4 separate regions of the Homo sapiens genome follow, and all the other regions are linked to region 1. The links come from fine-mapping of genetic effects on gene expression. A gene starts in region 1. Each other region holds a variant in brackets. All regions are shown on one strand. Distances are between the middles of the regions.

Region 1 (8,000 bases):
CAGGGTTTACATCCCCACCTGACTCAGGCCCCTTAAGGCAGGAACCTTATCCTGTTTACCAACAACTCTGGGTAATACATAGCTTTTGCTAGTAACAGGGGCTACTAACAGCTGGGCACAGTGGCTCATGCCTGTAATCGGAGCACTTTGGGAGGCCGAGGCAGGTGGATCACCTGAGGTCAGGAGTTCGAGACCAGCCTGGCCAACATGGTGAAACCCCATCTCTACTAAAAATACAAAAATAAGCGGGGTATGGTGGCGCATGCCTGTAATTCCAGCTACTCAGGAGGCTGAGGCAGGGAGGATTGCTTTAACCCGGGAGGCGGAGGTTGCAGTGAGCTGAGATCACATCACTGCACTCCAGCCTGGGTGACAGAGCAGAGTCTCAAATAACAAAAACAAAAAGACACCTTAGTGTGAATTTAAGATGAAGCACTATCTCCCCCAAGGATATTGGCTTGAGGGATGCAGGAGGGTGCATGAGGAGAGAAGTACAGGGGGCTGCAATCGGGACACGGGGGACACCAGGCTGAAAACACTAAGCCTTCCCTCCTCGGTAAAGGTCAGTCAACCCTGGTGCTATTTCCATCCCCCACCCCATTCCCTTTTTTTTTCTTTTTTCCTTTTCCATTTTCAGGATTTTCATGTCATAACTGGTTTCTTGATAACAGCAATGTCACATGCCTGAAAAAAGTAAGCACTTGGTCATTCAGAGAAAATTACCCAATTTTTGGTTTCCCCTTGAACTTTGTTTTCCTGCTCTGATGCCAACCTCTCAGCCATGCCACCGCCCTTTAGTGCCGAGATCAGAAGATGAAAAGAAAGGAAAAGCATAAAATCAGTTGGATATTTTTAAAAGGCCAATGGCATCTCTTAGATAAATGGGTTTCACGGGGAAAGAGAGTTAGGAGGCCATTAAATTTCTTTAACTCTCCCTCACCCATCAGCACAAGCAAATTAAACAAAGAAAAAAAGGAAGCCACCAGGGCAATAAATTCTTAACACAAACCCAAGGCCTTTTCTAGTTGCTGTATCCCCTTTCCCTAAATGAAAAAGTATCTCACTAACCCTTTCTTCATATTTTTCTTCACTTACTTTCTTCTAATCACTTTAGGATATTAGAGCTGCTACTCCAAAGTGAGAAATTGCAATAAATGTGCTTAGGCCCACATTTACATAAACTTTTCTTTTTGGGGGGGTAGAGTGTATTATTATATTCACAGTGTAACTATTGCTGTTCAGGGGTGACTTTTCAGACACCATGAATTCAACAGCATCCTCGAATAAGCATTTTTCTTTTCCCAATTGAGACAAGATTTGGAAGTTAACAAACCATTTAATAATATGGCTTCATTTTGTTGGCATGGTCTCACTCACTCACACACACACACACAAAAAAAACAGTAGGAAAACACTTTCCATATAGTCTTGCTCCCCAAAGGGTGATGATTCGGGTCAGGGGACACCCTGTAAGACAATGCGCTGCATGTAACCTCCATTTCAAGCCAAAGCCAAGACAATGAAGACGGCTCCCACAGGGTGCACACCTCCAGCAAGTGAATACAGTAGTAGCAGCAGAGCATGGTCGTGGAAGTTGGGGAAAAGCGAGAAAACCAAGTGGGCAAAATTATGTCATTTTTGTATTTTTCAAAATGAATGTTCTTTGGACTTACATTAGCAGCTAGAAATGAATGTAAATGTTCTTTCACTTCAGCAAGGCATTCTTGGAAGGATGTCATCCCACTGTTAATAAAAATACAGGCGGGGCACGGTGGCTCATGCCTGTAATCCCAGCACTTTGAGAGGCCGAGGTGGGCAGATCACCTGAGGTCAGGAGTTTGAGAACAGCCTGGACAACATGGCGAAACCCTGTCTCTACTAAAAATACAAAAAAGTAGCCGAGCATGGTAGCGGGTGCCTGTAATCCCAGCTACTTGGGAGGCTGAGGCAGGAGAATCATTTGAACCAGGGAGGCCGAGGCTGCCGTAAGCTGAGATTGCACCATTGCACTCCAGCCTGGGCGACAAGAGCAAAACTCTGTCTCAAAAAAAAAAAAAAAAAAAAAAAAAAAAAAAAAAACACATAGAGGGCCACCCCCTAAGAAAAACTTAAAACCACTGATTTGTGGTCAGGTAGCAACATCAGGGTGGAAATTTTAATGCAAACATCATATTTGGGGTACAAAAGTAAATTAACCAAGATCCCCGGAGACTATCACATTACTAAAAAGGGCAGTGAAAACACATTTTCTTGATAAAATATATGACCTAATTTAGCCAATATAAGCATGGTTACATTTTCCTTAGTCCTACTTCTCTATCATTTTTAAGACCATGTGACAGGTGTCTCAGGTGTCATCTCAGATGTGCCATGTTATACACTGTGTTCTGTCTGCAGGGCTTCATCATACTTCCAGAATAAGTTTAATCTACAAAAATGGACTTATGTTAACACAAATATCAACCACAAAACCTTAAGGATGTTGTTAGCTTTGGCTTTTTGAAGGAAAATTCTCCACATTTATGCAACTCCATTATCTACGTGGGGGAGTCTCCGGAGGGTCTCCAAAAGCTGACCAAACCCTAAAGTATTTTTTCTCCTTTTAATCTGAAATCATTCCCGAATATGACAAGTCAAATTATCACTTGGTTTTCCCTGAATAGGACAACCCTGTATTATAACCTTGACCCTGACAAGGACTGCTCGGTTCTAATGCCTACACTCCCACCTCCTTGGCAGAAAGTGCCCTGGCAGTATTGACTGTAAACAGAGAGGTAGAAACAAAGGGATCTTCAGTAAAGGCACCATCTACTGTCTAAAGTTGGAAAGCACCAATCAACAGGTTCTTCAGGTGGAGAGGTGGATTAGGGAAGAGCTATGAGGACCTGAGATGAGTTCTAGATCAGGACTGATCTTGAGCCGTCCGAAGAGTGGCTGGTGGGAGCAACTCTCAAAGCAGAGGTTTTCAAACTTGCCTGCACATTAGAATCACCTGCGGCGTCTTAAAAATTCCATTGTCCAGGCTGCAACCCAGGCAAGCCGAATCCAGATCTCTGGGAGTGGGACACAGGCACCAGTATTTTTTAAAACTCTCCAGATGTGGGGCCAAGTTTGAGAACCAATGCCCGCAAAAGCATTCCCAGCGAGCTTTGAGCAACGTTTTGAGCGGCATAAGCAGAGTCGGGAGGGCAGCGGCCTTAGGGTGAAGAACACACAAAGCAAATATACAAAGTTTCAAAAATCCTGTGTAACTAACTCCAACATGACAGCCAAGTACCTGTCTAGAGGCCAAACAGTGATGCAACTTGGAAAAGTCCCGGGGAGAGCTAGAATGTGTGCTCCGAGTGAGGCGGGGGCTCTCTCGGGGATGACCTCCCTGGGCGGCGCAGTGGTCTGGAGGATCGGGGAGAGAAAGGTCACACGCCCCTTTCTTTCCAGGGGATGGTCCGGCCGAGCACGCCGAGGACTTGTGTACGACAGGATAGGTCAGAAACTGCTTCGTGTGAGTCTCTCCCAGCTGTCACTAGAGCCGGAGGGTCCAGGCAGGGGTGCGAAGGCAGAAAGTCCCTCTTCACTAAAGGGAGGTTCTGCAGGGCCTCCTCCCTCCCACCCCGCCCCGAAGCGGGTTCCCCAGGGATCGCCCGCATCTGTTCTGCGCCTGCCCTCGGCGGGGCGCGGCGCGGGAGTCCGGGTCGCATCTTCGAGCCCCAGGACACGCGCGGCGCGGGTCACCGAGAGTGGACGCGCGGACTGAGCACAGTGCACCTGGCTGAGCCCGAACCCCTGGGGGTCCCGCCGCCCTGGGCGGCCCCTAGCACCCCGAAACCCGGCTGCCGGCGCACACCCCGCCCCGCTCCAGCCCGGAGCTCACTCACCGCCGCCGCCGCCTCCTCCCGCGTCCAGCTCCCGCCGCAGCCAGCAGAGCCCGGCCGGAGTGCAAGGGCCGCGGCGCCGCCGGGAGGCCGAGCGAGCCCGCGCCCCGCCCCGCAGTCGCCGCCCGCCCTCCTGGGAGGAGGGGCAGGGGCTGGCCGGGGGCCTGGACCCGCCGGGGCTGCCGGCGGGCCCAACCCTCCCTTCAATCCGCCCGCGGCCCGTCGGGACGAACCTACCCAGGAACCCCCGCACCACCCGCCCTCGGCTCCGCTGGGCCCGGGGCTGCGCTTAGACCTCACCCCTTCCCGGAGCCGTTCGTCCTTCCACCTCCCCTCCGCCGTCACCGGGCATTTTTCTTCTCCCAGCCTCGGCCTCTCCAAATTCCTGGCCTGCAGGAAGCCCTCCCTATTTCGCGCTCTCGACTGCGCCGAGCTCAGTTTACCCCTTTCCCTTCCTTTCCCTGCTTAGCCTTTTTCCCCCTCACTGTCAGAAACTTAAGGGATAGCGCTCTTCTGCCACCGCAAACCCACACCTATTTATTGAGCACCTACTGTGTCTAGACACTGGTGGGGAGGTTATCCCACTTGCGCGGTAACAAGAAATGTCTGTCTCTGTTGGAGAAACAGTAAAGTGAGGCGCCTCGTAAGGTCACACAGCTGGCGGTAGTAGGGCTGGGATTCGAATACAGTTTTTAGGTCCTTGTTTAGACCCACCCCACGATAAACTGCGGCACGCCTCTCGCTAGCTGTGAGAACTTGGGCAAAATGTTATCAGTTCTAAACCCCAGTTCACTCATCCGTAAAATGAAAAGCTGGATACTTCACCAGCTATGAGGATTCCCTGAGAAAACAACAACCTGTACTTTTTTTTTTTTTTTTTTTTTTTGGAGATGGAGTCTTGCTGTTTTGCCCAGGCTGGAGTGCAGTAGCGCGATCTCGGCTCATTGCCTCTGCCTCCCGGGTTCAAGCGATTCTCGTGCCTCAGCCTCCCGAGTAGCTGGGACTACAGGTGGCCACCACTACGCGCGGCTAATTTTTGTGTTTTTAGTAGAGACGGGGTTTCACCACGTTGGTCAGGCTGGTCTCGAACTCCTGACCTTAAGTAATCTACCCGCCTCGGCCTCCCAAAGTGCTGGGATTACAGATGTGAGCCACTGCGCCCTGCCCAACCTGTACTTAATACATGTTTGCTGACATATTGAATGAAATAGACCCTTGAAAACTTAACAATTCAAAACAATATAAAAGGACTTGAAAAAGTAATAGGTTGGTGCAAAAGTAATTGCAGTTTTGCTATTACTTTCAATGGGAAAAGCCACAGTTACTTTTGCTCCGACCTAATAATAGTGATTCATTGCCAGGAAAGAAAGAAAAAAAAAAAAAGATGCTACTTATCCCAAGTGGGCAGCATGGTCAAGGGAGTCTTTTTGGAGGAAGCGGTATTGCACTATTCCAGAGTTAGCAGGTCTAGGTTGGGGAAGACAGCCAAGGTGATGGGGTGTGTGAACAGTGCCCAGAGGGTGGACCAGCTTTCCTGAGCAGAGGCTGCCTGGGGCAGGACACACATGCTAGAAAATGGGATGAGGCATACTAGAAAGGTGGATGGGGTCAGAGGGTGGAAAAGGCATCAAATGCCAAAGTGAGGGGGCTCAAGGCAACCAAACAGTACTTGGACACCTCAAAATGACTAGAATGGAACCTGCATGCAATAGAGGGCACCTAAATGGCCCTGGGAACCAGATGGGGGAGACCCATGGCCTAGGAACCAGCAGAGTCATGGGGTAGATGGGGAGTTGCAGCAGGGAGGGACAGGAAAGAATTTTCCAACTGGGTGCAGTGGCTTATGCCTGTAATCCCAACACTTTGGGAGGCCAAGGCAGTGGATCACCTGAGCACAGGAATTCAAGACCAGCCTGGGCAACATGGCGAAAACTGTCTCTACCAAAAAAAAAAGAAAAAGAAAAAGAAAAAAAGCGCATACACACACACACACACACACACACACACACACACACACACACACACACACACAAATTAGCCAGGCATGGTAGCATGTGCCTGTAGTTCCAGCTACTCAGGAGGCTGAGGTGGGAGGATCAACTGATCCTGGGAGGTTGAGGTTGCAGTGAGCTGTGACTGCCCCAGTGGACTCCAGCCTGGGCAACAGAATGAAATTGTCTCAAAAAAAGAAAGAAAAGAAAAGAAAGAGAGAAAGGAGAGAGGGAGGGAGGGAGGGAGAGAAGGAAGGAAGGGAGGGAGGGAAGGAAGGAAGGAAGGAACTAATGAAGGAAGGAAGGAGAGAGAGAAGGGGAAGGGAAGGAAAAGCAGAAGGTAAGGAAAAGGGGAAGGGAAGAAAAAGGGGAAGGGAAGGAAAAAGGGAAGGGAAGGGAAGGAAACGGGGAAGGGAGGGAAAAGGAAGGGAAGGAAAAAGGGAAGGGAAGAAAAAGAGAAAGGAGGGAGGGAGGGAAGGCAGGAGAAGGGGAAGGGAAGGAGAAGGGGAAGGGAAGCACAGGGAAGGAAAAGGGGAAGGGAAGGGAAAAGGGAAGGGAAGGGAAGGGAAAAGGGAAGGGAAGGGCTCTTGTTTGGAAGACCAGATGTCTTGGTGACCAGATGTGTGCAATGAGGGAGTGGAACTGGCAAAGGCAAAGCTGAGGCTTCCAGGCTGGGTGCCTTGGAGCATCAGAAATAGGAACAATATGGAAAGAGGCTGCTTTTCAGGAGAGCTCCTGAAGGTTCCATGGAGCATGAAGTAATGGTGGAACTTTTCAGTGGAAATGCCCCAGCAGGCAGCTGGGAAGTGGAGGAGTGTCTCTGGGCAGCATCCATGTGGAGGGTGAGGGGAGAGTGAGGACCAGGAGCCAGGAAAGGAGAGTGCAGTGCCTTCACTGAGGGTGGAGGAAGCAGAGGGCATCACCCAAGGGAGAAAGAGGAGGGTAACTGAGAGCTGTTGGGAAGAACCCAGGAGTCTTTGACGGAAGCCCAAGGGTGAGGGACTCCTGAAGGAGAGGGCAGTGCCGAATGTCACGAATCCACTTCTCACATGGGCCCTTCCAAGGATCTGTAGAGAGTGTGCACTCAGGAAATATTTGTTAACTGTCAAAAAAGCATTTCATCAGCAATTTCCCCTCCCATACAGATATTTTGCTGATGACAAAAATAAGAGGAGTCATTGGAGGTAAAGACAGAGGTGAGAGAGATCAGCTACCAGAGATACTGCTTTCGTTGCTCTTATTGTCAAGATGAATGCTCAAGCCCCACCAACCTCAACTTAAAGCAAACATTTCCAGGGAATGCTTCTGAAAAACATTTTTGTCTTTTTTTTTATTTAATGTAAGTCTGGCTCCCTTAATTATGGTTTTTGAGCCAGTAGAACGATTAAGGGGAGGAAGAGCGGGGTCAGTGGCAGCAACTTGCCAAAGAGAAGTTTCCAGGAGGATGAGTAGAGAAAAATCACCTCTTTTCTCCTCCAAATTTTCTGTACATAAAATACATGATACAAAAATATTCACATAAGTGCTACAGTATAAATGACATTTGAGTAGTGACACAGAATATAGGAAGAGTGACAGAAGGGAGGCTGCAGCATGGAATAGGTCTTATGGCGTGCACTTGGAAGACGTAATGCAAGGCCAGGCGTGGTGGATCACACATGTAATCCCAGCACTTTGGAAGGCCAAGATGGGTGGATCACTTGAGGTCAGGAGTTTGAGATTACCCTGGCCAACATGGTAAAACCCTATCTGTACTAAAAATACAAAAAAATTAGCCGGGCGTGGTGGTGCACGCCTGTAATCCCAGCTACTCGGGAGGCAGAGACAGGAGAATCACTTGAACCCAGGAGGCGGAGGTTGCAGTGAGCCAAGATCACGTGATCGCACTCCAGCCTGAGTGACAGAGTGAGACTTCATCTCAAAAAAAAAAAAAAAAAGAAAAGAAAAAAGAAAAAGAAGAAGATGTAATGCACATGGATAACAGAAAGAGTGCGGAGGGCATTTCTGGAAGGTGTGGTCATACACCCGAGACAGGGAAACAGGAGGAAGTGAACAAAACAAAAAATAATACACGGTTTATTTGATTGAAGTGGAAAAGCTATTCCGCTTGTGAAGCAAGATGGGATTGGGAAGGGCA
Region 2 (8,000 bases), 23 kb after region 1:
CTTAACTATTAATACTAATAGCATACTGTTGACTAGAAGCCTTACTGATAAGTTGATTTGCATGTATTTATTACATATTCTTAAAATACAGTTAGAGAAAATGAAATGTTCTTAAGAAAATCATAAAAAAGAGAAAATATATTTACTGTTCATTAAGTAGAAGGTGGTCATCCTAAAGGTCTTCATCCTCATCGTCTTTACACTGAGTAGGCTGAGGAGGAGAAAGAAGAGGGGTTGGTCTTGCTACCTCGAGGGTGGCAGAAGTGAAAGACAATCCTTGGATAAGTGCACCCTTGAAGTTTAAGCTTGTGTTGTTGAAGGGTCAGCTGTACCTATTTTTTCAGCTTTAGTATACACAGAAAGTAGTTGCAGAATTCCTAACCTCCACCCCCCGCCCATGAGAAGTGTATTAACCATACAGTATTTGTGTATCAAGTCAAAACCCTATTTTCCCTGGGTACTCAGGTTGGTTCTTTTCTTCCCTACCCCCTTCAGTGTGGTTATGTTATTCATCTGTATTATGGTTGGGTTCTTTTGTTTTTTTTTATTTCTAAGAGACAGGGACTCACTCTGTCATTGAGGCTGGAATGTATGGAATGTAGTGGCATGATCTCAGCTCATTGCAGCCTCAATCTCCTAGGCTTAAGTGATCCTCTCGCCTCAGTCCCTGAGTAGCTAGGACTGCAGGCATGCGCCACCATGCCTGGCTAATTTTGTATTTTTTGTAGAGACGGGATTTTGCTATGTTCCCCAGGCTGGTCTCAAACTCCTGGGCTCAGGCAATCTGCCCACCTCGGCCTCCCAAAGTGCTAGGATTACCTGTGTGAGCCACCATGCCCAGCCTGGTTGGGTTTATTTGTAATTGGGTTCCATTTGGGGCTCCCAAACATCTTAATTTTTTAAAATTTACATTCAGTAAAATTCACTCTCTGTAGTTTGCAGTTCTATGAGTTTTGACAATGTAGAGTCATGTATCTACACCACAGTCATGCAACAGAACAGCTGCATCAGCCCCCAAAATCCCTCATACAGCTTAATCAACCCCCCCACACCTCCTATTTTTGGCAACCACTGATCTGGTTTTTGTCCTTATAGTTTTGCCTTTTCCAGAATGTCATATAAGTGGATTTGAGTATGTAGACTTTGGGGTCTGGCTTCTCTCACTTAGCAGAATACATCCATTGTACTCTACAGGTCACAATCCACTGTTATTATTTCTCTTATTGCTCAGATTCCCTAGGTTTGGCTGTTTTGAGCCCTTTCAAGCTGGCTCCTGTGATCTTCTGACATGTTCTCACCATTTTTCTAGCATTTCCTTACTTCCAGGCACCATAAGCTGGTTCAGGATCATCTTACACTTTCCCTTTCCCAGCCCTGGAGTCCTCACCCCATTTTTCCAAGGAGTGGTGGAGACCTTGAGAATCCCCCTCCAGTGGGCGAAACAGCCCACTCCAGAGAAGGCATGGAGAGAAACTCACTTATCCACTGGAGAGTACAAGAGAGGAGAGAGAGGAAATAGCTCGTCTCATCAGAAGATGGCCAGGTATAGGGATTAAATGCAGATGGGTGGTTAATATGTAATTCAAGCTGATGGTGGCGCATATCAGTGCTGACACCATTAAGCATCTATAGCTTCTGTGATTCCCAGCAAGATTTCCAAACAGCATTGGGCATAAAAGGCTAGTCAAGGTTTCCAAATACCATGCCAAGCCTAGGATGCCCCCTTCCATCTTGATATGTAGTCTCATTGCCTTTATACCAACTGTCCCCCCACCTCCCTGCCATTAATAGCCACAAGAGTGAAGCTACATTCATGGACTGAACCCCCACCAAGTCGGTCAATTACCTCAGTTGAGAACCCTCTTGATTTCTCCCTAAAAATTGTGTTTAAAACTTGTTTTTAAAATATTTTTTGACACCCCTTTGCTAAAGCAGTTTGTGTCAGGGGCAGCTGTGACAGTCACCTGGGGTTGCTACGGGAACGGTGTCCATGGATTGCAAGCGACACCTGGCTAGCGGTGGGCAGCTGGCGAGCTACATGGAAGGAGGGCTGTTTTTCCTTTGAAAGTAGAACATTTCTTCCTTCAGGTTGTGAACAGTTAGCCACGGGGCGTGGGATTTTACTTAGGAAAGAGAGGCTGCTGTGGGACTGGGCACCCACTTGCCATGGCAGCTGGGAAGGGAGAGGAGTCAGCAAAAACTGGCTGGGACTAACGCTCCGAGGACGCACTGGCTCAAGCTGCCCTTTACCAGCTGAGGCCAATGACTGTGGGTGAGGCAGGGAAACCAAGGGGAGCCCGGGGGTGAAGGATTGCAGTGGGGGTCAGGGAAACTGCAGGTACCACACTGGGTGCCTCGGTTCCTGTTAGAGCTCCCTCCCTGCCCAGGGCCAACACCAGAGACCAGATCCCTGACCTGAACTACAGTCCCACTGCTGTACCCAGATGCCCTTGCAGTCATTCATAGTCACTTTGGGTGAGTTGCATTTGTCAGTCGGACTGATCCCCATGTATTCCTGCATTCCAGGCATAATGCAGAAGCCACTGCTCCCAAGAGCCTGCCCCACTGGTTTGCATGAGACTCACGTGCCTGGGTCATTATAATAAGCCCCACTAAGATGGGACTCAGGTCAATGAGGACAGAGCATCTTCTAGTATAACAAGTAAGGGTTTATTGATGTTGGCCTTTAGATACTAAAAAATAATTGTTTTTGTAAATAGCAAAGGCAAAGGCAAGAGTAGCCAGTGTTAGCTAAGGCAGTGGAGTGGTTCTCAACCCGCGCTGCACATCAGCGTCACCTGGGGAACTGTTTCAGCCCAGTGATTCTGTGGCTCTAGAGTGCAGCCTGGCTTGGATTTTTAAATACTCCCCTCGAGTGATTCTTAGTGGGTGGCCAAAATAGAGAACTCCTGCTCTAAAGTAGAATAACCTCTAAGCTAAAGAAAATTTGGACCCCATGAGTATAACAGATACTATCATACCTTGGAGATAGCATGCCATAATGTGGTTCAGTTCATTATTAGACGAAAGTTTCCTCGAAGCTGAATCTGCATTTACACACATTATATCACCCTCTGGAAACAGAAGTAAGAGTCAGGAAAGCAGATTTCCCCATAAGTACTTCTTATACTTCCAGTGTAGCTCACCCGTTAGATAGAAACACAAGGCTTCATTTTCTCTTTGCATTGATTTGATGATTGTCCCTGGTCATTGAATAGGGGACCTTAGGGGCCACACACTGCTATGAGGAAAAGCAGCATTCACAGTCAAAGCTCTGGTGAGACCAGCATTACAGGCCCTGGGGATGTCCCAGCGTCTGACCCTGAGCAAAACTGTGTAGCAGTTTTGCTCCCACACTTCATGGCTGAGAATAAGGAGGAGAGGTTTCCTACGGTTGGAGGTTCTGGGCAGCAACGTCTACCATGACCTCCGCAGTGAACCTGTAGGCAGGGAGCCCCAGAGACAGGGTGAGAGCAGAGTCAGTGAGGGCCTGGGGTGCTAATTAATGACCTTAGCATTGGAGAATGATGGTATTAGACTAAGAATGAGACCAGTCAGAGAGAGGAGAGTCAGGAGATCTGGCGGTGGCTCCAGTGGTAACACATCTGAGAGTCACTTCAAAAGTCACCCACCCTTGAGGTCATCAACTGCCTTAAGAGACATGGGAACATAGTCACTGAAAGTGAAGGGACCCACCTATGGTCACACAGCCAGATAGGGGCCTGGAGAGAGCAGATGTCTGCGGCTTCATCTC[A/C]GTCAGTCCTGTTCATTCTGAAAATGCTTCCGAGCACCGGGCATAGAGCCAGCTTGTGCTCCACACTGGGGACGTAGTGGAGAACCCCGTCTTCAAGGGTTCAGCTCACACACCCTGCACTGCTTTCCCATGCCTGCTGTAACCAATTACCACAAAGCTACTGGCTTAAAACAGCACACATTTATTATCTTACAGCTCCGTAGTCCAGGAGTCCAACACGAGGCTCACTGGGGCCAAAATCAAAGTGTCAGCAGGGGTGCATTCCTTTCTGGAAGCTCCTGGGAGAGCCAATTTCCTTCCCTCCTGAGGCCCCCACACTCCTACCACACGGCCCCCTTCCTCCATCTTAAAGGCCAGCAACGCTGGGCGGGTCCTTCTCACAAAGCAACACTCTGCGCTCCTCTGCTGCCTCCTCTTCCACTATTAAGGACCTTGATGATGATATTGGCCCCACCTGGATAATCCAGGCTCATTTCCCTGTATTAAAGTCAGCTGATTAGCAACCTTCATTCCATCTGTTAATTCAATCCCCTTGGCCGTGTAACAACACACTTACAGGTTGCAGGGATGGGGGCCTAGACATCCTTGGGGACCATTATTGTGCCTACCACACTTCCTGTGAGACTTCATGACCACCGGGTTGTGGTGGGAGAAAGGCTGGGAATCCAAAAGCTCAGCAGAGCTGAACTAGGTGTCGCAAGAAGAAAACTCCCCCCAGGCGATCATCCCAGGATGGAACCTTTCTGCAGTAAACACAGCAGCTGGAGAAAGGCGGTCTAGACATCAAGGATTTGTGTGCGCCAGCCTCACCTGATCACGCACAGACTGTGTTTGCCGGAAAGTGGAAATGTTATGCGCGGTCTGGGAGACCAAGTTCTCTCCCAGGGCCAGAGGCATAGTGTCTGGAATGAGCCAGAAGTTTAAAAGCTAACCTGTTATGAAATCAGCCAAGAGCAGAAAGCGCAAAGCTTCCTGGTCCTGCCCCGACCCCACGCCCGCTTGCATAACTCTAGGCAAGCAACTGAGAGCGTTTAGAGACCCCAGAGGACCTCCCAGTTCCAGCCAGCAGGAGGACGGTCACAGAAACTCAAACCCAAGAGGATGTATTTGGACTGGAAATAGTCTCCCAACTGGTCACCCTATCTTTAGCTTCCTCTTCACCTCCCTGCTGCCCCAGCAATCTTTCCAACAGGCCAAGCAGAGCACACTCATCCAGCTGAAGCCCTGCGGTGACTTCGTGGACCCTTCACAATAAAATCCTCTCTCCACAGAGAGTCGGGCAAGGCCCCTTGCAACCTTGGCCTTGCCCTTTGTGTCCACAGCTCGGTTTCATGAAAACACAACCATCTTTACATCCTCCAGGCCTCTAGAATGAACTCCCCTTCCTTCTCTTTCTGGAAAACTCTAAGTCACTATTCAAGACCACATACCACTTCCCCAGGATTCCCACTAGAGCTATGTGGTCGCTTTGCTCTCTGTTCCCAGCCGGGATTCTCCTGCTGTGCTGAGCACCTGGAGGGCAGGAGAACTGTTGTTTCATATATGTCCCAGGGACCTACTGAGCCTGGCTCAGTGGACGCTGTAGAAACATTTGTCACATTAAGAAGGATTATAAGAGGTTGGCACGCTCTGCTTTTCCAGTTCTCTTGGAATTAGGAATTTGGAAATGGAATCCGAATCAGTTTTACTAATGTCTGAAATCGGACTAAGTCCGCCCCTAAAAGAAAAACTACGTTGGCAGGTCTGATAGATGGATGGCATTCATGGCCACAACTAGTGACCTTCTGTATCCACACCCTTGGCAATGTGAGTTTGCAATGCCTCATTAAAAGGTAGAGCATATTTTCTCCCCCCGCTTGTATCTTGGCTGGCCTGCTTTGGCCAACAGAATATAGCGGAACTGGCAATGTGTCCTTTAAGTCCAGGCCTCATGAGGCCTTTACTGCTTCTGCTCTTCTCGTAGGACCCCTGTCTCCACTGAGAGAACAAGCCTGGACTAACCTGCCAGAGGAAGAGAACAGGCACGGGTCAGTCTGTGGAGCAGAGCCAACTCTTCCTACCTGAGGCCATGCTAGACAGGCCAGCCCCCAACCCAACTGCCAGGGACCACTGAACAAGCCCACCTGGATTCAGCCAGCCTGGGCCCAAATCACCAAAACCACCCAGCCACCATGTAGACATGTGCCATAATAAATGGTTGTTGCTTTCAGCTACTAGATTGGGACGAGTTTCGTTACACAGCGTAATAGATAACAGATTAGGACAGCTGATGGCTGAGAAGCAAATGAGAAATGAGTGCTTGACTATTCTACGAGTGGAAAGGAGGGAGTTTATTGTTTTCGTTATTAAAGTTTTATTCTAAGGAAAATGTCCCTTCCTCCTTTGATCTATATACACTATCGATGCTTTTATTTTCTTTCTTTTCTTTCTTTTTTTTTTATTGAGACAGAGTTTCACTCTTGTCTCCCAGGCTGGAGTGCAGTGGCACGATCTCAGCTCACTATAACATCCGCCTCCCGGGTTCAAGTGATTCTCTCGCCTCAGTCTCCCAAGTAGCTGGAATTACAGGCACTTGCCACCATACCCGGCTAATTTTTGTATTTTTAGTAGAGATGGGATTTCTCCATGTTGGCCAGGCTGGTCTTGAACTCCTGACATCAGGTGATCCATCTGCCTTGGCCTCCCAAAGTGCTGTGATTACAGGTACGAGCCACCGCACCCGGCCTATGATTGCTTTTCATTTGCTTCTTCCTGGAGTTCACTTGGGATCGAGAAGCAGCAATGGACTCCAACATAGTCTTTTCCTGAGTGGAAATAATTAATTCAGTGCTTCCTGAAATAAGGAAGCCATTGGAGACCTGTTTTTTGAACCTACCTAATGAGTCTTGTATCTGTGTTCTGGATGCTGGCTTAGAAAGAGGCTGGGCACGGTGGCTCACGCCTGTAATCCCAGCACTTTGGGAGGCCAAGGTGGGTGGATCATGAGGTCAAGATATTGAGACCATCCTGGCCAACATGGTGAAACCCTGTATCTACTAAAATACAAAAAATTGGCTGGGTGTGGTGGCTGGTTCCTGTAGTCCCAGCTACTCAGGAGGCTGAGGCAGGAGAATTGCTTGAACCCGGAAGGTGGAGGTTGCAGTGAGCCAAGATCGTGCCACTGCACTCCATCCTGGTGATAGAGCGAGACTCCGTCTAAAAAAAAAAAAAAAAAAACAAAGAAAGAAGTTATGGGCCTGGTGGAAAAGATCAGTTGAAGAAGGGTTTATATGGGACATCAAAAATAAGAACAAAGATAAGACCCAACCTGATTCTGAAATTTTGACAGAGGTGGAGGTGAGATGTCAGGCTAGGGAGGCAAGGCCCTGGAATCTGAAGTGTGGTGTGGTGATGGTCATCTTACAGGATCCTGAAGACCTGAGGACCTTATGATCAAGTCAGCACATCCAGAACACATTTACGTCTGTCCCAGCTGGTTTGGGCTTGCTCTAACATTTCCGCATAACTCACTGGGCCTGATTCAAGGATAATTTGTAAAGTTCAGAATTTTTCTTAGCAAAGTTGAGTAAGAAGGACAGAGGGGTTGTTACTGTCACTGAAATGTATCCACCACTCCAAGCCCAGCTCAAATCCCACTGCTTCCCTAGCCACCTAACTGGAAGATGCTCCCTTCCTCCTCTGAATTCCACAAGCAACTCCTGAGGATTGCAGGGCACATATCTTGACTGGCTTGACATGTAACTTAATGTTATCCAACTGCTAGCCTTTGCAAGGGCCCTACCTACTTCAGGTGCAAATGCGCAGCCTTTAAACTGGGCAAATAAACTTTTGATGGGGATCTTGGGAACCCAACCACCACTTATAATGTTGCTTCCGTGAGAAATGTGTTCTCTGTTCTCAGAGAAAGGCTGGGAAATGACCTTTGGTTGGGGCACCAGGCATCTCCAAGATTTGTCAGCTTTGAGCATGGGAGAAGCACATCCCCCTGGAGGACTTTTTAATTTTACTTAAGAAACACATTCACATATATTTCGCATGATTTATGTGTCACTCCAGTTCAGTTTAAACTCCTTTAATTATATTCTTCTCCAACCTCTGATCCAGAGGTAACCTCTCCCTTCCCTAACCCGCAGCATGCTCTCAGTCAAGAAGGCTTTTTCGGCCAGGCGCAGTGGCTCACCCTTGTAATCCCAGCACTTTGGGAGGCCGAGGCGGGCAGATCACAAGGTCAGGAGATCGAGACCAT
Region 3 (8,000 bases), 100 kb before region 1:
AATGCCCAACCCACTTTTACAGAGGTTCAAAAGCAATTATTGCAGGAAGAATAACCCTCTCAACAAATGGCGCTGGAGCAACTGGATATTCACAGGCAAAATAAATAAACCTCAAACTAAACTTCCACCTTACACAAAATTTAACTCAAAATGGACTGTGAGCTTAAATGTAAAATGCAAAACTAAGAAACCTTTAGAAAACAAAAACACAGAAGAAAATCTCTGGGATCTAAGGTAGGAAAATAATTCTTAGACTTGACACCAAAAGCACAATCCATAGAAGGAAAAACTAAATTGGACTTCATCAAAACTAAAGACTTGTACCTTTCAAAGACCTTGTTAAAAAGGTTTTTTGTTTTGTTTTGTTTTGTTTTGTTTTACTAGAGATTGGAAGAATGTCTTTACAAACCACATATTTGACAAAGTGCTCATATCTAGAATACATAAAAAATTTTGAAAACTCAACAGTTTAAAAAAAAAACAAACCCCAAACAATCCAATTAGGAAATGGGCAAAAGACATGAATAGATATTTCACCAAAGAGGATATACGTGGCAAAAGAGCACATGAAATGACATTCAACATGATTGGCCATTAGAAAACTGCGTAAAACCACAATATAATATCACATATACCTATCAGAATGGCTAAAATACAACATATTGACAATGCCAAATGCTGGGAACAATTCAGAGAAACTGGGTCACTCATACATTGCTGTTGGGAATGCAAAATGGTGCAGCCATTCTGGAGAGTAGTTTTGCAGGTTCTTTAAAAGCTAAACATGTAATTACCATTCATCCTAGCAATTGCACTCCTAGATATTTATCTCAGAAAAAAATTAAATCACATTCACACTCCTAGATATTTATCCAAGAAAAAAATTAAAACATATTCACACTCCTATTTATCCCAGAAAAAAATTAAAACATATTCACACAAAAAGCTGTGTTCATAGAAGCTTTATTATAATAGTACAAAACAAGAAACATCCCATAAGTCCTTCAATGAGTGAATGGTTGAACAAACTGTGGTGCATCTATACTATAGAATACCACTGAGCAATAAAAAGGAAAGAACCTGTTGATACATGCAGCAGCTTGGAGGAATCTCCAGAGAACAATGCTGAGAGAAAAAAGCCAATTCCAAAAGGTTACATTCTGTATGATTCCATCTATATACCATCCTGGAAATGATAAAATTTAAAAACCAGAGAGAAGTACACTAGTTGGGTCAAGGAGGGATGGGAGGGAAAGCGAGATGGCATGGCTATAAAAGGACAACATGAAGAATGCGGGGAGTGATGTAAATGTTCTATATCTCAGCTGTATCAATGTCAGTATCCTGGTCATGCTATTGTACTATAGTTTGCAATACATTACATTTGGGGGAAACAGGATAAAGGGTATATGGCATCTAGCTGTATTTTTTTTTACAATTGCATATAAATTTATAACTATCTCAAAACGTTTGATTTTTTAAAAATTCTTTTTTAAACTTTGCCCATCTTTAAAAAAAAAAAAAAAAAAAAAACCCCAGGTCTTTCCTGGATCACTGGCTTGACTAACAAACATACTATTTATTGGTTGAGCTGATAATTTCTGGATACAAAGAGAAGGCATTTAAGGTGTACTGTTCATTAAGGAATGATTTGGGGGAAATAATAGAAAATCTACAATGACATATCAAACAAAGTTGGTTTCAAGAGGAAGGGGGATGGCCTAAACCAACTGGTGAGAGTAAGAAGGTTCCAGATCCACTGAGTAATGCCCCAAGTTCACAGACTGATCACTGGAAACCAAAAGCATACCTGTCTCCTCTTTAGAAGGCTGTATAAATTCTCAGCCAGAGCATACAATTTTTTTTAATGAATATTAGTTTCATTCTGAAAGACGGGATATGGGTCATTTAAATTCTTCTGATGTCTTTCCAATGATCTCTTCAAACTCCTGCCCAAAGACCACTAGAGACAGGTACAACTAACTGGACTATGGTATTTTCCCCCACAGACAAATGATGGTTGTAACTTTTTAAAGTATTACATTCAATGCATATTTTCTTTCTTTTTTTCTTTTTTTGAGACAGAGTCTCACTCTGTTGTCCAGGCTGGAGTGCAATGGCAGGATCTCAGCTCACTGCAACCTCCGCCTCCTGAGTTCAAGCAATTCTCCTGCCTCACCATCCCAAGTAGCTGGGATTACAAATGTACACCACCACACCCAACAAATTTCTTTGTATTTTAAGTAGAGACAGGGTTTTACTATGTTGGCCAGGCGGGTCTCAAACTCCTGACCTCAGGTGATCCACCCACCTCGACCTCCCAAAGTGCTAAGATTACAGGCGTGAGCTCCTGGCCTCAATGCATATTTTCATACCCATGCTCAATGCTGTGGATAGAGAGACCCTAGAAATAAGAGGTATAAAAATTACCCATCTCAGGTGATAAAAGTTTCATTTATCCTCTTCTAGAGTCTCACAGTTCACACTTTATTTCAAAAGTCACTTATTTAGTAACCACATACTGCTAATACTGCAATAAAACCAACACTTGCTGCCACAGCTCTTTGGGATAACCGTGAGCCAAAATTCCTGGAGCAGAAATCTCACCTGGCATAATATGTAGCTCACGGCTTCTCCTCTGTCCTTTGCTGTCACCCTCTCATACCTTTCAGACTCATCTTTTCCCCCTTTATCCTCTAGATATTTAGCTCAAACTCCTCTTTCACTTCTTGGTGCTACCAGCTTCCCTGCTTCCTCTCCACACCACCTCCCATCTTCTCACTATCCCTTTGCACTTTTCTCCTTCCTGCCTCCCCTGTACCTCATTCCCATCATACTTCAAACTGCTCTGCCTGTTTTGTTTTGTTTTTTGTTTCTTGAGAAGTTTCTTCAAACTGCTCTGCCTGTTTCATTTTGTTTTGTTTTTTGTTTCTTGAGAAGGAGTCTCATTCCATCACCCAGGCTGAAGTGCAGTGGCACAATCTCGGCTCACTGCAACCTCCACCTACTGCGTTTAAGCGATTCTCCTGCCTCAGCCTCCCAACTAGCTAGGATTACAAGCATGCACCACCATGCCCAGCTAATTTTTGTATTTTTAGTAGAGACAGGGTTTCACAGTGTTGGCCAGGCTGGTCTTGAGCCCCTGACCTCAGGAGATCTGCCCGCCTTGGCCTCCCAAAGTGCTAGGATTATAGGCATGAGCCACCATGCCCAGCCCCTTTGCCCATTTCTAATGCTGATTGTTTCTATTGCTGGGCACTAGTCAGTCCCCAGGCCTCTTCCCTCTAGCTCCTGCCCTTCCTTTCCCATGACCCCTTTTTCTGGCTTACTCTGTTTTTCACTCCCATCCTCCACACCCTCACCTTGGTCCAACTGCCTTCTCCAAAAGTACATGCATGTTTACAGAGCGTGTATTTGTTGGCTGGATAAAGGTGCCAGCCAATGTACTGGAAAAGGCAATAAACCAGGGACCCAAAAGCTGGATGTCAGAACCATCTCAAACAACTCCTTGCACCTTCCTGGAGAGCTGGGGGAAGGAGAGTGGCAAGTGGGCTTCTGCAGTGCTTTGCAGCTAGCTATTGATGGACAATTAATCAGATTCTACTTAAGAGATCAATAAACAGATTAATTTAGATACTCCCTAATAAGGTAAGAATCTGGGCCAGGAGCTGTAGCTCACACCTGCTATCCCAGCACTTTGGGAGGCAGAGGTGGGAGAACCACTTGAGCCCAGGAGTTCGATACCAACATGAGCAACACGGCAAAACCCCATCTCTAAAAAAAATACAAAAAGTAGCCAGAGGTAGTGACACTCACTTGTAGTCCCAGCTACTCTGTAGGCTGAGCTGGAAGGATGACTTGAGCCTGGGAGGTCGAGGCAGCAGCGAGCCATGATTATGCCACTGCACTACAGCCTGGGTGACAGTGCGAGACTCTCAAAAAAAGAATCTACCCTTGGGTCACCATGTATCCTTTCACAGTCTAGGCCTATCTAGCAGCTAATGAGACCTTTTAAGCTATTAACAGCTTTCCACAACACACCACAAGACAATCACTGCTCTGGAGCAGGCTTTATTTCAGGAAAGGGAGGTAGCAATGTCTACAGTGAGAGGATCCCATCCAGTTAAAGTGCCTTCCAGAAGGAGCTGTGCTG[T/C]TGACTTGAGGATGTTTAACCAGGTGAACCTTCTCGCAGCACCAGATGCAAAAGATTCGGAACTTCTCAAGAAACAAAAGCTGTGAATTTAAAATGAAAGAAGCTTGGGGGATGGGGAGGCTCTTCACCTGCAATATCTACCAGGCCCACATGTTGTTCTGCCGCCTCTCCTACAGAGCATCTTGATCACTGTGGCCTTTGTCCTCCTACCACAATGAGCGGCTCCCATGGAGAGACAGGCCCCTGACCTTGTGTGCCCTCTTTGTGAGCCCCATGAACACCATGAGCCCACGGTCCTGGCTGCTGGATGCAAACAGGGCCGGATGTACAGGAATGTCAGCCGTAAACTCAGAGACAGGATTAACCTCAAAACAAGAAGTTATTTTGGGGCCTTACTATCCTGTTAGTTAAATGACAGGCCAGACTCTAATTAATTTCTACTAGTGTTTTGACAAGGTCAACACCAGTGGCTACACAGGGGCAAAGTAAATTATTAACCCTCCTTCTCCACTGGGCCTGAATCAGCCAGAGAGTTCACCACCTGCCAGCCACGTTTTCTCTCCAGTTCAGCAGCAGGAGGGGCATGGTACACAGCACAGGCATCTGCTTCTGGCCTGAAGGGTCACTAAGACAGCTACAGGAAGTGGCAATGAGTTGAACCTGCAAGGGAAACAGTTCACAATGGGACGGGGAGAAGGAAGCACTGCACACAGGGTAGGAGCCTGGCATCCTGGTGCCTCCAAAACCCCAAAACCAAGCAGCAAAGGAGCCATGGAAGGCTTCTTCTCACAAAAAGTCATAGGCTTAGAGTCATGAAATGCCTTGACCAGGCAGAAAGAGGTCCCTGTAAATCAGAGAGCATGAGGGGTCCAAAGAACATACCTTTCCTTTGGACTTGGCATATGCTGGACTCAAGTTTAGGGTCATAGTTATAAACCCAACTGGCTCAAAATACTTCCCCAGATGGACTCTATCGGACAACCTCACTGCCTATTTTCCAAAGTTTACTAATGCCTTGGTTCTTGCTCCAAATACATGAAGAACCCAGTGTTTTCCAACGAAGTTTGCTAGCATCTAAGTCTTCGTTGCACTGTCATCCAGCAAACACTTTGCAGAGTAGATGTCTTTGGGCTCTTGGACAATTCAGGGATGGAAAAAACAAGATTTTCCCATCCTCCTGCACCACGTCTCCCTGAATGCTTTCAGATCTATCTCTAATGCCACCTTCTCTGGACTCTATCATTTATTTGCTTGACTTCTTTGTCCCCAGCCTTATTTCAAAAAGTCTTTGAAGCACGTCCAGCCTTTTATTTCTAACTGTAAGGGGACTCAATGTTTCCCTAAACCCAGAGACTGCCAGTATTCCTTCCCACTAGACCACACACTTGAGAAACATGTGCAGAAATTTAACAAATAAAACAAAAAGAAAGAAAAAGAAGGGAAGTGTTAAAAGGAGAAATATGTGTGCTTGGCCATATTCTCTCCTTCATCTGTAAGTTCCCCAAGGATAAGGCCCGTGCATGACTTTGGAATTTCCTGAGGAATGGAACAAGCTTCTCCCAGTCCCCAACTCCTACTCACTGCTGACAAAACAGCATTACTTTATTCATTACTGTGAAAACTGCTGCAGTCACCCTGTGGAGCAAACACCTTGCCCTTTATTTTGTCTTTCATGAAACTAAACTAATAATGCTGGTTCAAACAAGTTCTGTTCCCTAGAGATGACTCGGACAGAGGGATTTTTCCATTGCATCTAACTTGGACTTGTTCTGGCCCACATTTCCAGAATTCTAACGTGTGGTCACCGTGAACACATGACTTACTCTGTAGCTAAAACTCACTAAACCACATCTAATCACTTCAGAGGCCGCCTACTACTCTGATGGTTTCTACTGAATTCTTCTGTCACCAACTATTTGCCTAAATCCATTTACATCTATCCAGTACCTCAAGTAAATAAGCACTCAAGAATATTTGTTGAATGAATAAATACATGAATGCAAACAAAACTATTAGCTGTCTAAGGTAAAACTATAAAAGGCATAAAAATGAATAAGGAAAATGGTTACCCCTAAAGAGGTGTTCAAGTCTCAGAGGAGAACAAGACATACTTTGGTTCAAGAAGTTCCCTGCGTCTAGAATGTCCTTGCCCACCCATAAGTCACCTTGCTAATTCCCACTGCCCCCAAGACTCACCCAAGCCTCACTCCCTCTTAGGAACCCGCCCTGGCCTGCCTACACGGAGCAAAGTCACCCTTTTCCGAACTTCTGCTTTCCGTGCCATATGCCAGCTTCTCATGCCCCACACCGAACTGGCTGTCAGCTTTCTTGTCTGTCTCTACTAGGCTGGGGAAGAGTTGAGAGCAGAGGCCACCTTGTCCATCTCTGCACCCCAGATTTCGCATGATGCTTGATGTGTTGAGTAAACAAACAAAAACTACAGGCAAAGCAAAACACAATAAATGCCACCCGAGGGACAAAAGACCCTGGGGATTTCAAAGAGAAAGAACAGCAGCTGCTGGGTGGACCCAAGAAGGAGATGTCATCTGACCTGAGCCATGAAGGATGGCACGATTTTAAATGGCGGAGACCATAGCTCGGGGGCTGGTGAAGGATGTTGGGGACAGACAGGCTAATATGAGCCGGGGGAAAGAAGAAAGCAAGCAGGGAGACCACTAGGGCACACGCAGAGAATCCAGTGAGAGAGCACAGGACAGCAGGTCAGAAAAGACAGTCTGAGGCTGGAATACGTACAGCCCTGGGAGGATTATTTTCCCCACTGCAAGAAGAAGATTCTTTGGGATCAGAGATGTGGTGTGTCAAAAGTATTCAGTCACTCCATCTATTGCTCATTAACTAGGCTTGGGGTTGCACAGCAGGCATTTATGTAAAAAGAGAAGAAAAGAAAACACACACACACACACACACACACACACACACACACACACACACCACACTTGTATATACATAGATCCCAGTTTCTCAGAGTGACATGATTGACATTTTGGGTCAGATATGTCTCTGTTGTGGGGACTGTCCTTTCTTGCAGGTCAGGATTGCAAAGCAAAGTCCCAGAGGTGGCTAATACGGAGTAACAGGGCACACTCTTCTGTGGAGGTGACAGGGAATCCTTTAGTGTGGCTGGCACCAAGCTCACCAGGGACAACAGTGAGGGCCAGGGTTGCAAAGGCAGGTGGGAGCCAGGTGGTGGAGTGCAGGCCTTGGAGACCAGGCAGGACTCTGTAACTGAAGGGAAGCCACCAGGGACTTGTGAGGGTGGCCAACCTGCGGCAGGTGGTGTGGTCAGAAGGGGGCAACACAGTTGGGGAAATAGGGAGATGGCTGCTGAGGCCTGAACCAGGGCAGCAACTGTGAGAAAGGAGGTCAGAGGATGGAACTGAGCTGCTGTGGATGTGGAAGCCACAGACCTGGGTAGCAGACAGAAGGTGAAGGTCAAGGTCAAGGCAGAGGCAGGGGCCCCCAGTGACAAAAAATTAAAAATACTTCACTAAACTTAGGACTTCTTCTTGACCTGCCTTAGGAGAGGTGCAGATCAATACTCTTATTTCACTGTACATGGAATAAATTCAAAAGATATGAAAGGTTTACACACTGTTTTTTGAAAGTTTTCCTCTTACTCCATCCCCCTACATATCCCCAGAAGTAACCACTATTGACTAGTTATCTCCCTCTTGAAATAATCCATATGTGCACAAGCACATATGCATGTATAGCAATATATTATGTATGTTTTTTATAACACAAATAGTATCCCTTTACAAGAGAGGAAATAAAAACAGAGAAAGACTAGGAGAATTCTATGAAGTCAATGACAAAGCTGGGTTTA
Region 4 (8,000 bases), 75 kb before region 1:
GACAGCTGTCAGTTACTGCGGAAAATCAGCAACTTCAGAGACTTCCCAAGAGCTAAGATAACATCTTTCCCTTTTAGAACCAATAAAATGTTCACACAAGGAATCAAGAATATGACAATGTTTTATCTTCTATTTAAATTTGTTCATGAAGCTACACTTTTATTGAAAGCCATAAATTGTTCATTGACATCATTTCTGGAAACTTATTCTTAGAAACAATTTTTAAAGTAGTAAAAGTATAAATGTAAAAAATGTTCCCCACAATCTTTGTTTCAAAATTACAAAAAAGGGAAAAAAAATGTAGGAGAATGGTTAAATATATTGTGGTTTATCTTCTTAAAAATTAAATACAAAGAGCATAAAGTATAATAAGAAAGAACATTTTTGATATCTTAACTTTTAAAAGCAGGTATCAAAACTGTAGGGACATTATGATTGTCCTTATATTATATATACATGGGTAGATGAAAGCTATCAATAGATAGGGAGGCAAACAGAGATTATAGAAATAAAAATGGCTGCTCAGGTATTAGGAAAGTATGTGTACGTCCCCCCCTCCCCCTTTTTTCAATTTTCGTTTTATGTTGTTTTAATATTATTTCAGTGATAAATACATATATCTTCTTGTCTTTGTAACTCTGAGCCCTGAGAGAAAACAGCACCATGAGAAGCAGTATTATACCAAGAATGTGGTGGTTTTTAAGGAATCATTTGATAAAAAGAGGAATCCCAGTTGGTAAGGAACAATGCTGAGGGCTTCTCAGGAGAAAAGGTCTGAATAGGGAAAGAGAGATGGTCATATATGGAGAAGAGGCAATCACCCTCCTCTGCCAATGTGAAAAATGGATTCATGAGAACTCCTGGGCTGGGTGACCAGAGTCACTCATCTCTGAGCTCCTGCCAGGTCATCGGGTGAAGAAAGGCTAAGTTCTAAAAAGTAGGACCTAAAATCTCTCCTGAGGAATTATTTCAAAACTGGAGGAGGAAAGGAGTGACAGAACAGTAGACAACTGAGACTTAAAGAGTGTTCCAGGGACTTCAGAGCCAGAAGCTTCTAGCCCCAAGTAAGGGAGAGAGAAAACACCTAAGCCCAAAGAGGGAGGAAGTAGAAAATTAAATATTAACACAGTACCTTTATGTTTTGACTTTTAATTTTTTTGGCTTTGTTCTAAATTGTTTATCATCTCTTTGTTGGGCTATTCCTACAAACCACACTTATAAAGAAGTAGGTTCCAAAACTATGCTAGAATACAGGTGATGATAATGTTACAGCAAACATCAAACACCTAAATGGGTGCAGAGATAAAAGTCCTGTCTTTTTCTGACCCTCAATTATACTTATTCCCTCTCCCAAAAATGTACATATTGAAAACCAACATTCTTGCTAATAATTTCATACATGTGAATCTAATACCTCAACAAGATAATAATCTAGAGAAGAGAGAATACATAATAAAAACCCATAATAATTAGCAAATGCCAAGCTGAGAGGAGAGAATCAAGCGCATCCACTGACTCACAGATCATAAGAGCACAGGTGGAGCAGGTGTGCACATCAGAAAGTGGCTTGCAGTCCACAAACCCTAGCCACTCCATCTTTCCAGGCAGGTGGGGCCTGTCTTATCACCTGACCCCACAGCCCTGCTTACCTCAATCAGAGCTCCCTTCTCCCTGTCCTCCGATCGCTTTGCACTGTCCAGTTCATCGTGCATTTCTGAGAGCTGGTCCTGGAGATCCCTGATCTCAGTCTGATGCTGCTCCCGTTCCATCTTCACCTGGAATAGCCTGGCAGGGAAGGAAGCCCATTAGACAGGCTCTTCTGGGCTCTGCTTATTTCCATCCAGTCTGATTTCTGATCTTCAGAGGGTTACACAAGTCTCTAAAGCCCCAAGGAGCCTCCCCATTCTCTGTTCTGCACTGAGCAAGGGATCACCAACCTGAAAAGGTGGCTGAGAAGAACTTAGGCTATGGTCTAATTGCTTACAAGAGGATAAATGAGAACTCAAACCAACAAAGTGGGTATGGTTATACGGAGACATTTTCTCCCCAAAAGGAGATGGTAGGGTACTAGAATTTGGATGCAGAAGATAAAGAAATGAAACAGAAAAATTTCCCACTAAAGCCACCCCATCCTTCCACTGTCTACTATCCCAGTGTTCTAGACCAGGAGAGTTGGCAAATTATGGTCTGTGGGCCAGTTCAGCCCACTGCCTGTTAGTGTAAAGTTTTACTGGAACATGGTCATGCTCATTCATTTATGAGCAGCCATTTCATTTCACGACACAATGGCAGAGCTGAGTATGTGCAACAGACTATATGACCCACAAACCCTAAAATAATCACCACCTGATGAAAAAAAAGTTTACAAAACTCTGTCCTGAACCAAACTCACAACTACTATACCTTTTTATTTTGTAAAACTTTTACTATACCCTATATTTTCTGATTTTTTTCTTACTAAACTCTTTTCTGCAATTAGCATCTATGATTGTTTTAAACGCAAAACACCACCATCAAAACTGCAAGGACAATCAAATGCTTTTATTATATAATGTCCTCTTTTTCTTGAACTTCCCCCTAGATTTCATTCCCACTTGACTTTCCACTTAAGGCTTCTGTCGTGTCCACAGAACGTCATAGCACTGTTTATTCTTAGACCTTGGTTTTCGATTCCTTTGCCACAGCTTTTAATACAACACAATGGCAGGGGCATCTTGGACCTAACTTTCCTTCTCTGTAGACTCAGAGGAGGTATAAGCACCCATCACAAACACCAGCACCATCGAGGATAAAATGCACAGGCTGAGAGCTCACGGGGGCCACGTAACACATGCTTTTTAGAAGCTGGGCCCAGGCTCCTTGAACTCTGTCTTTCAGTATCAGCGCTCAGTGCTCCCTGCTTCCCACTTACCTGCTAGGAGGTCCACTTTAAGGACTGAAACTTTGTAACGTATACTTCAAGGTGCACAAAGAATGTTAAGAATTACTAACCTTTTTGTTTATCAGTCTACATGTGTCGCCAGCTTCATAATTTTACAAAGATAAGAGGAAGAAAAGGAAAAGCCAGCTGCCTTTATAAATAT[T/C]TGGAAGGCTGGGTAGTATTAAATGGACAGAAAGTTTCTAGCTACATGTCATAGAGAACCTGGGAAGGGCAACAGGCTCTCAGCCCAGAACTTACTCCTCCAGATTCTTCCGGAGCTCCCCTTCACTTTCTTCCAGTCGTTGCTGCAATGTGGAGTTCTCCTCCACCTTTTCGTTGTGTTGGCTTCGGAGCTCTTCTAGGTTTGCTCTCATCCTCTCTCTCTCTTCTTTAATGTTCTGTTGATTCTAACAGGAATCAGTGTGATTTTAAAGAGCCTCCACTGTACATTAACGTAACCCCACAGAAGCCTACTTCTCAACAAGCAGACTCCATATCTTTGCACTTACATTATTAAACAACTTAATCAAACTATATAATTAAGGCACAGGAGTTCTTAACTAGAAAGAACATCAAACATTTATATTTAATGAACTGTAATACTTGTAAAAGAAAACACAAACACAGCCAAACCTCATTCTGCTATTTCTATGATTTAGTTCAGATGTTTTATATACATTTAGTTTCCCATTGGCCTGCCTAAATCCAACAGGGTTTCTTTTACTCTGTCTAAGCAAACAGTCTCTATAGGCTTTGGTTACATTAAAAAAAAAAATTCTTTGGACAGCAGCAGCCAAATACACAGGAATTTATTCAGTGATTAGAGGAATGTTTCTTTTGGGGGAAAAAAAATTGGCTTTCACTCTGGTTATCCCAATGCATGTAAAATATTCTTTATCAACCAAGACAGAAATGGAAAAAATAACATAAAGGAAAAACCAGATACCTTGACTTCCAGTTGAAGCTGTCTCTGAAGTTCAGCCACTTCTATGGTCAACTTGCTTTTCTGTTCCAATAGATCTTTGACTTCAGATGTGGAATTACAAGCCTATAATTAATTGCAAAGATATACTAATTTAAATGTTCAGGGTGCTTTATTTTAATTATCTTCCCCCTCCAAATATAATCAGTGCAGTAACAGATGAGGCATAACACTAAACATTTTAAGACCCAATTCAAACATCAACCCCTTCAGGGAACCTTCCCTGACTTGGTGGGCAGAGTTAATGTTACTGCCTGCCTTGGGACTCCAGTGAACTTTATTCTACAGCATTTACCAATCACAGGTATTGTTTCATCAGGTATATCAACACTAGTCCAATATGACTAAAACTTGCATACATGGCATATTTGTTAGAAGTCCGTAATGTATTCTGTAGAATATTATAAAATAGCAATGCATTAAATTTAGGATAATAAAACTTAAAAAGCCTCTCCATAATAAATTCTATATTCCAGAGCATGGAAATCAATGGTTAGCAAAAAATCAGCAACAAAATCTTTTTGTAAGTAAAGACAGTCATTTTTTCTATTTTAATGGCAGAATACAGTTTAGCTTTAGTGTTTCTTAAGAGTGGTTTGAGAATTACTACATCAGGAGATTATGAACTTTTATGGGGCAGGGACCAGGTTTTATGCACCTCTGTATCTACAGAACCCAATGTATCTCATAAATTTAATCAAATCTCAGTAAATGATTGTTAGAATTCTGGTTTTGCCATGATAGAGTAGCAAATATCAGATTTACCCTCCCAGCAAAAACTATGAAAGCTAGACAAAAATATATAAAACAATTGTTGACAGGCACTGAAAAGCAAGCAACACAGAGTTATGATCCTTACAAAGGAAAAGACAGGAGGTAGCCCCACATTCACCCTGGGTTCTCCATGACTCCATTTCCAAACCACAGCACAATAAAATTTTATAAGCACAGACAATGTCATTAGGAAATTGCAAATTAAAACAACAATGAGGCTGGGTGGGGCGGCTCATGCAGTAATCCCAGTACTTTGGGAGGCCGAGGCAGAACGATCACCTGAGGTCAGGAGTCTGAGACCAGCCTGGCCAACGTGGTGAAACCCCATCTCTGCTAAAAATACAAAAATTAGCCGGGCGTAGTGGCACACGTCTGTAGTCCCAGCTACTCAGGAGGCTGAGGCAGAAGAATCGCTTGAACCCACGAAGTGGAGGTTGCAGTGAGCCAAGATCATGCTACTGCACTCCAGACTGGGTGACAGGGCAAGACTCCATCTCAAAAAACAAACAGACAAACCAACGAGATACCAATATATACGAATTAGGATGGCCAAAATTCAAAACACTGGCAACACCAAATGGTGGCAAGGATGTGGAGTAACAGAAACTCATTCTTTGCTTGTGGGAATGCAACATGATACAGATAATTTAGAAAATGGTATGGTTGTTTCCTACAAAACTAAACATGCTCTTACCATACAACCCAGAAGCTGCCCTCTGGGTGTTTACCCAAATTAGTTGAAGTCTCATGTCCACACAAAAACCTGTACGTGAACGTTTAAAGCAGCCTTATTCATAACTAACAAAACTTGGAAGCAATCAAGATGCCCTTAAAAGGTGAATGTATAAATTGTGGTATATCAGACAATGGAATATTAATACTCAATACTAAAATGAAATGAACTACCAATCCATCAAAACGCATGGGAAAAAATGCACACTACTAAGGGAAATGAGCCAAACTGAAAAGGTGATATACTGTGTGATTCCAACTACAGAACACTCCAGAAAAAATAAAACCTTGGAAACCATAAAAAGATTACGGGTTGCCAGAGGTTAGGGGAGAGAAAGGAACAAACAGGCAGAACACACAGGATTTTTAGGGCAGTGAAACTATTCTTTATGATACTAAATGATAGATACATGTCATTGTTCATTTGTCAGAAGCCTGTAGAATGTGCAACACCAAGAGTGAACACTAACGTAAACTATGGACGTCTTTGAGTGATAATGATGTGCCAGTGTAGGTCCCCTGATTGTGAGAGGTGCGCTCCATGCTATAGGATGCTAACAGTGGTGGAGGGCGTATGTGGGGACAGGACAGTAAACGGGAACTGTCTGCACTTTCCACTCAATTTCACTGAGAACCTAAAACTATTCTGAAAAATAAGGTTTGTTAATTTAAGTGAGAAAAGTGTCCAGAGTGGCAACTCACTGATGAAAGAAATAGAGATTAGAGTTTAGAGATAGTAAGCAACAGGGATTTCAAGGTCAGGGTATGAGAGAGGAGAGAGGTCCACAGAAGAAGTTCCAAGAACCTACAATAAATACTCCCTGGATTCTTGGATGATATCCTAAGCTGTATATGAGCAGAGCAAGAGTTCAAGAGGACTGCAGAGAAGACCTATTAGGAGGCAAAGAACCCAACAGAAACTTCACAGGTTGCCCAATGCTAGGGAGACACTAGGGTTCCAACTCAACCAAAATAGAGAAACCTTGGTGGACATTCTGGCATTCATTTGAAATCCAAGAAAGGAACATGGGTCATGTCTTAAGAGTAAGGGCAAAAACTTAAATAGACACTCCCTAATAATGCCTAGAACAACCAACCATATAGAATCAAGGTAATCTGTAAGTAATTTAACTGTCTGTCAAAACAAAACTTAACATTCTTCAGGGGGAGATAACACATTCCAGAACATCTATAACTCATCACCCACTCGGTCTAGCATACAATTAAAAAAAAAAATCCTTAGACATGCAAAGAAGTAGGAAGAACTAACCAGTAACTAAATAAAATAAACAACAGACATAGAGATGACCCAGATGTTAAAGTTAACAGATAAGGACTACAAATTAACTATAACTAATATTTTTAAAATAGAAACAATTATGGACAAAGGGTTTTTGTTTTTTTTTTCTTTTGAGACAGAGTCTTGCTCTGTCATCCAGGCTGGAGTGCATTGGCCAGATCTTGGCTCACTGCAACCTCTATCTTCTGGGTTCAAACAATTCTCCTGCCTCAGCCTCCCAAATAGCTGGGGTTACAGGTGCGCACCATCACACCTGGTTAATTTTGTATTTTTAGTAGAGACAGGGTTTCACCATGTTGACCAGGATGATCTGGAACTCCCGATCTCAGGTGATCCACCCACCTTGGCCTCCCAAAGTTCTGGGATTACAGGCATGAACCACCATGCCTGGCCCTTTTTTTTTAATCAAGTTCCAGAGATAGATTCTATAAAAATATAACCAAGTAGACACTCTAAAACAGCAGTACACAATATCTGAAAGTTAAGAACTCACTGGATCACAGCTCACTGTAATCTCAAACTTCTAAGCTCAAGTGATCCTCCTACCTCAGCCTCCTGAGCAGTTATGACTACAAGCATGAGCCACCATGCCTGGCAATTTTTAAATATGGTTTTTGTAGAGATGGGATCTCACTATGTTGCTCAGGCTGGTCTCAAACTCCTGGCCTCAAACAATCCTCCCACCTCGGCCTCCCAAACTCCCAGGATTACAGGCATGAACCACTGCACCTGGCCAAAGAAAAGTTCTTAAAAGAACCATCCTTTAAATGAAGGATGAAGAAAAACATTCTTTTAAAGACATCTTAAAAGAGAAAGTCTTAAAGTAAGATTGACGTAGCCAGAAAACAAGACTAATGAATTTGAAAGGTCAATAGAAAATATCCAGAATATCTGATGCCCCAAACATACAACATACACACACACACACACACACACACACACACACACACACACGAAAAGAGAGAGAATAGAGCACAAGAGATATGAGGAACACCATCAAAATTTCTAAGATACATGTAATTGGAGTCTGAGAAGAGCTGGGAGAGACCGAATGTGAAAGAAGCAATATTCAAATAAATAATAGCCAAGAATTTTTCAAATCTGATGAACCTATCAAGTCGAGAGCTCATTGAACCCCAAGAAAAATAAATAAAAGAAAAACCACTCTTAGGCACGTCATAGTCAAAATCTAACAATTGACAATAAAGATAAATTATTAAAAGCACCCAGAGGGAAAAGACACATCACTTTCAAGAGAATAACACTAAGAATGATGGCTGGCTTTCCAATGG

Alleles and levels. Positions count from the first base shown, and alleles are read on the strand shown. Sizes are in standard deviations (SD) of each study's normalised expression. Not every link is listed here.
For the expression in skeletal muscle of the gene that starts at base 3,938 in region 1, allele C in region 2 goes with a higher level than allele A (moderate effect, 0.46 SD a copy in FUSION).
For the expression in pancreas of the gene that starts at base 3,938 in region 1, C is the low allele of the variant in region 3 and T is the other (small effect, 0.32 SD a copy in GTEx).

Evidence for each region. PIP is the estimated chance that this variant, and not a neighbour inherited with it, causes the effect.
Region 2: its variant is fine-mapped to the expression of CGNL1 in skeletal muscle (FUSION, PIP 0.95).
Region 3: its variant is fine-mapped to the expression of CGNL1 in pancreas (GTEx, PIP 0.93).
Region 4: its variant is fine-mapped to the expression of CGNL1 in lung (TOPMed, PIP above 0.99).

The regions. Positions count from the first base shown.
Region 1 is chr15:57,372,443-57,380,442 of GRCh38, reverse strand. CGNL1 (cingulin like 1) reads right to left here and starts at 3,938. Exons shown (of 19, transcript NM_032866.5): 1 at 3,876-3,938.
Region 2 is chr15:57,349,443-57,357,442 of GRCh38, reverse strand. No RefSeq gene overlaps it. Among named protein-coding and RNA genes, the nearest start is that of CGNL1, 23 kb to the left of the region's middle. RefSeq lists an enhancer at 1,231-1,952. The variant A/C (reference allele first, on the strand shown) is at 3,755.
Region 3 is chr15:57,474,598-57,482,597 of GRCh38, reverse strand. All of the region lies in intron 8 of CGNL1 (cingulin like 1), which reads right to left. Among named protein-coding and RNA genes, the nearest start is that of CGNL1, 100 kb to the right of the region's middle. RefSeq lists an enhancer at 6,936-7,435. The variant T/C (reference allele first, on the strand shown) is at 4,154.
Region 4 is chr15:57,447,468-57,455,467 of GRCh38, reverse strand. It overlaps CGNL1 (cingulin like 1), which reads right to left. Exons shown (of 19, transcript NM_032866.5): 5 at 3,867-3,968; 6 at 3,179-3,327; 7 at 1,650-1,785. Among named protein-coding and RNA genes, the nearest start is that of CGNL1, 75 kb to the right of the region's middle. The variant T/C (reference allele first, on the strand shown) is at 3,084.